Linked DNA regions of Homo sapiens: region 2 is linked to region 1. A link means that fine-mapping ties the variant in region 1 to the expression of a gene that starts in the linked region. Tissue or cell type: whole blood. Region 1 holds a variant in brackets; the other region holds the start of a gene. All regions are shown on one strand. Distances are from middle to middle.

Region 1 (2,754 bases):
GGCAGCGTCACAATTTCTGCCCCGGACGATTGTGATATCTGAGACGCTGCTGAAGTCCCGACGTACCAGGCCAGAGGGAGACATGTCTGTGCCCCTCTGACCAGGCTTGTTTTTCCTCCTCTTCTTCGCGGGAGCTCCTTGCCCCCAGAACACCCACTGTGAAAAGCAGTGGAAACTCACCCTTTACTTCAGCCTTGACTGGGAAGAGAGGCCAGATTTGCAGGGAACCTGGCCTTCAAGAACCATCAGGCCCAGGGCGAGGAAGCCCACGTTTTGTGAGGCCTTAAACAGTGCCTCCTGTCAATGGTGCACCCCACCCAGGAGACTCCCCCATGCTGCGGTTTTCAGTAGCTCGGAGCCAGGGGCCCGGCATAAACTGAGGTGACAAGGAGGTGCTCTTGGTTTGCTCACAATGTTTCCTCTGGTTTTGGTTTAATCTCCCATTGACTAACCAGGAAATAGAGAGGATCAGAGAAGTTTGGGGACCTGCCCGCTGTCTCACGGAGTGAGTGACAGACCCAGTGTACCTGACTTCTGCCGTGGAGTCACCCGTGATTACTAATGACAAAGGGACACACCAATGATAACCTCTCCCAAGCAGTCATCACGCACTGGCCATGGTTAGAAGGGTTCCCCTTACAGCCTCTCCCTCAGTGCTCACAACCTTCCTGGGAACTGGCACTGTCTGTATTCTCCTTGGGTAGGAAATGAGGGAACTGATGCCTTGGGAGGGGACTAACTGGCCAAAGACAGAACTGGGGCTCGAACCCCAGCAGCTGGTATAGTCAACCACTGCCATGATATCATCATAGATACCTGCTTGGGGTCCCTCCATCCCTCACATCACAGGTGCTCAGACAGAACTTTGCCCAACACACTCCTGCTGCACGATTAAGCAGCATGCCAGGTGCAGTGGCTCATGCTTGTAATGCCAAAACTTTGGGAGGCCAAGGTGGGTGGATCACCTGAGGTCAGGAGTTCAAGACCAGCCTGGCCAACATGGCAAAACCCCATCTCTACTAAAACTACAAGAATTAGCCAGGTGTGTTGACACAAGCCCGTAGTCCCAGCTACTAAAGAGGCTGAGGCAGGAGAATCACTTGAACCCAGGAGGCAAAGGCTGCAGTGAGCTGAGATCCCACCACTGCACTCCAGCCTGGACCACAGCAAGACTCCATCTCAAAACAAAGAGGCCAGGTGCAGTGGCTCATGCCTGTAATCCCAACACTTTGGGAGGCCAAGGTGGGCAGATGACGAGGTCAGGAGATCGAGACCATCCTGGCTAACATGGTGAAACCCCATTTCTACTAAAAATACAAAAAAATTAGCCAGGTGTGGTGGCACGCGCCTGTAGTCCCAGCTACTTGGGAGGCTGAGGCGGGAGAATCACTCATACTGGGAGGTGGAGGTTGCAGTGAGCTGAGATTGCGCCCCTGCACTCCAGCCTGAGCGACAGAGCGAGACTGTCTCAAAAAATAAAAAAGA[A/G]TGTGGCATGTCCCAAATGTGCACATTCAGGTGCCTTCCTCACAATTCTGGCCTTACACATAAAACTATGACTTATTTCATTTTTAAATCCATTTCTATTATTTCAAACTAAAATCTATTGCAAAAGGATATTCCGTGGTCCTACCTTAACCACAATAACTGCCACCTGCCATTCACCAAAGGTAACTGCCATCTACCAATAATAGGTACAAGGCACACAAAGCAATGCTATGGAATTTGAGTTGGGTACTGGTTCCCGATGAAGGCTCTGAACTTGACTTTCTTCCCTTTTTTCAAAAGGAAGACGAGCAAAGTCTAGAGAGGTGTTAAAGAAACACTAGCACCAAACAGACTTTGCCCTGAGAGAGCCGACAAGGGACTGGCTGTCTCACTTTGTCACTCAAGGTCACTGAATGCTGTGCCTCTTAGGAGCTTCCCAAGTGCACACTTCACACGTGGAGAAACGCTGAAACAGGGTTTGGATAAGCCCCTGACATGCCAATGTCCCCTTTCCCACCAGGAGATCACACCTGGCCCTGGGCTGCAGACACAGCACAGGGTGGCTGCTCATCCGGGCGGGTCTGGCGGGGGCCAGGCAGGGTCCAGGCTGTCCCTGGGTTTGACCGATGTGTATGTCCTTGCCCACCAGCACGCCGAGCTACAACTACGCGCCCAACCCGGACAAACACTGGATCATGCGCTACACGGGGCCCATGAAGCCCATCCACATGGAATTCACCAACATGCTCCAGCGGAAGCGCTTGCAGACCCTCATGTCGGTGGACGACTCCATGGAGACGGTAGGCGCCCGCTGCATGCCTCTTGGTGGGCGTGGCTCCGAACCCCCAGCCAGGCCAGGGCCGAGACCTCCTGGCCCTTCAGGGTTTTCCTGGAGGAATAGAAATCAAAGGCAGAATGAAGAGGCCCCATGTGCTAGACCTGGGGAACAGCTTGGAGCAATCCAGACAAAAGCCTCTTCCTTCATGAAACATTTTCTAGATCTGTGTTGCCCAATACGGTAACCATATATGCTAGTTATATTTTTTCCTGCTATTTACATTTTTGAACACATTTATTGGGATGTAATTCACATACCATACAATTCCCCCAATTAAAGTGTGCAATTCTGTGGTTTTAATATGCCCAGAGTTGTATAACCATCACCACATCCATGTTAGGACATTTTTCTTACCCCAAAGAGAAACCTCACAGCCCTTAGATGGCCCACTAAATCTCCCTCACCCCCAGCCCCAGACAACTGGTGATCTC
Region 2 (2,627 bases), 100 kb before region 1:
TTTGCCCTGCGATTGAGCTGCGGGTCGCGGCCGGCGCCGGCCTCTCCAATGGCAAATGTGTGTGGCTGGAGGCGAGCGCGAGGCTTTCGGCAAAGGCAGTCGAGTGTTTGCAGACCGGGGCGAGTCCTGTGAAAGCAGATAAAAGAAAACATTTATTAACGTGTCATTACGAGGGGAGCGCCCGGCCGGGGCTGTCGCACTCCCCGCGGAACATTTGGCTCCCTCCAGCTCCGAGAGAGGAGAAGAAGAAAGCGGAAAAGAGGCAGATTCACGTCGTTTCCAGCCAAGTGGACCTGATCGATGGCCCTCCTGAATTTATCACGATATTTGATTTATTAGCGATGCCCCCTGGTTTGTGTGTTACGCACACACACGTGCACACAAGGCTCTGGCTCGCTTCCCTCCCTCGTTTCCAGCTCCTGGGCGAATCCCACATCTGTTTCAACTCTCCGCCGAGGGCGAGCAGGAGCGAGAGTGTGTCGAGTGAGTGTGCGTCTGTGTGTCCCGGCGAGGGTGCGCGCTCGGCGCCGGGAGCGCGGCCAGCCGAGTCCGGAGGCATCGGGAGGTCGAGAGCCGCCGGGACCCCAGCTCTGCGTTCACTGCCCCGTCCGGAGCTGGACTTCGGGGCCGGGGCCGGGGCCGTGCGCCGGGGACAGGCAGGGCCGGGTCGCGGGCCGCGCGTCCCCCAGGCCGGAGGTAAAAGCGCTAGCGCGCGGAGGGCTCGAGGAGGGCACCGCGGCTGGGCCCCCCGCGCCCCGGGCCCCAGCCGTCCGCGGCTCCCGGCCCGACGCTCCCCGCCCCGGAGCGCGCCCGCCTCCCCTGCGTGGAGGCCGGCGGGCAGGCGAGCGGGGGGCGGTAGCGCCGTGCCAAGGGGCTGGCTGGGGCAGCGTGGCCGGCCGGGCTGGGGCGATTTAAGAGCGGTCCGGGCGGGGTGCGGAGCCGGACTTTGGCTGGGGCGGCGCGCGGGGAGGGGGCCGGGGGCGGTGGCGGCGGCGTTGGGGGGCGGGGAGGAGGCAGGAGGAGGAGCAGCAGCGCTCGCCGGGGGATGCAGCAGCGGCAGCGGCGGCGGCGGCGGCGGCAGCGGCAGCGGCGGCGCGGAGTCCCCTGCGCCCAGCGGCCCGGCCGGGCTGCGGCAGAGGCGGCGGCGGCGCCCCGCTCCGGGTGAGGTTGCCGGGGCCGTGCGCGCTGGTGAGTGGGGCGTGGGGGGCAGGTGGGTGGCTGGGGGACGCGGGGCTCGGGCGGGGGCTCGCGGCGGCCGGAGCCTTCCCCGGCGTGAGCCCGGCCGCGAGCGCCGCCCAGGTGAGCCGGGGCTGGTCCGGACCGCCCGGCTCCAGCCCCAGCGCTGCTTGCGGAGGTGGGTCCGGGCGGGCGGGAGGGAGGCTCCGGCGCCGGCCGTCCGCAGAGGGATGACCTGTTTGACCCCGCTGGCTGGCGGGCGGGCGAGGACTTCCCGCCGCGCCCCTGACCCGCGGACACGGCACACCGAGCACAGGCGGCCCCGGGTAGGGGAGCGCGCCTGGGCCGGCCATCCGCAGGGGCATGGCCTTGTTGACCCTTAGGGTTTAGACCCAAGGGACCGGTAGATGCCAGCCCACGTGGGGCTTGTCCGGGCAGGACTCGGGGAAGCAGTGGGCCGGATCTTCAGAGTGGTTGGAAACTCGCAGACACCGAAAGGACAAACAGGATCGAAAAGGCAGACTTCCTCCCAGGCCAGGGCAGAACGAGTTTCCATCGCCTGGCGGAGGGATGCTCCCCTCCCCGGCTCCTCGGGGTTTCAGAAGTCTAGCGGTGAATTCTAGGAGTGCACTTTTCCAAACATTCCTTATAGTAGTTCGTTCATTCGTTCTACAAGCATTTCTGGAGCACCCCCTCGTGCCGGGCACCGCGTTCTGTTCCAGGGAAACGCGGCTGAACAGGATCTGGCTCCTGCGCGCCAGAAGCTGCCGGTTCACTGGGAGGGCAGCAGGGTAGAGAGATGCCGTCTCGGGGTGGAAGATGGAAAGGGAAGCCTGCAATCCTAGTTTGCACACTGGCCTCGGTCCGCAACTCCCCCACCTGCACGCAGTAGGCCCAGCACACAGTAGGAAGAGCAAGCCAGACCTGCCTGTGACGACCCTCTCCTCCTCCTCCTCCCCCTTGAAAGCTTTGATTCATTCCCTGCCCCCCTTTCTGGAAAGTCTTCCTGCAGCTTGTTTTAATCACTTTTTGAGTTAAAAGTCAATATTTAATTAACCAAGTAATTACATTCAGCTTACGTTTCAATCTGGGTATTTGCTCATCTGTGCGTGTTGGGACACCCGCCCTCTCGCCCCTCCATCTGTCCCCTGCCTGTTTCCCACCGGGTCCACCCCCACTTTTGGGGCAGAGAAGGGGAGGCTGCGCTGGAGCAGGTTCTCAGGGGGAGACAGGGAGCAGGAGAGACGGGCTTTCTCTGGAGGACACCCCCGGATCTGCGCGCTCTCCAAATTTCAGCTTGTAGTGAATAGTGAAGGTGATTTCTTGACAGCCTCTGCCTCCCATTACAGAACCACCAGAGGGTTCTAATTAAATTAGAGCCAATCGTTAAGTATAGGAACGGGGTAGGGAGGACAGAACGAAGGGGGCCCCTTCCCTGTAAGAGATGTTCT

The links. PIP is the estimated chance that this variant, and not a neighbour inherited with it, causes the effect.
Region 2: SULF2 starts here. The variant in region 1 is fine-mapped to the expression of SULF2 in whole blood (INTERVAL, PIP above 0.99).

What each region holds. Positions count from the first base shown.
Region 1 is chr20:47,683,962-47,686,715 of GRCh38, reverse strand. SULF2 (sulfatase 2) reads left to right here. Exons shown (of 21, transcript NM_001387048.1): 6 at 2,135-2,285. Among named protein-coding and RNA genes, the nearest start is that of SULF2, 100 kb to the left of the region's middle. The variant A/G (reference allele first, on the strand shown) is at 1,486.
Region 2 is chr20:47,783,904-47,786,530 of GRCh38, reverse strand. It overlaps SULF2 (sulfatase 2), which reads left to right and starts at 1,050. Exons shown (of 21, transcript NM_001387048.1): 1 at 1,050-1,188. LOC124904920 (a long non-coding RNA gene) reads right to left here and starts at 777. Exons shown (of 2, transcript XR_007067618.1): 1 at 369-777; 2 at 1-126.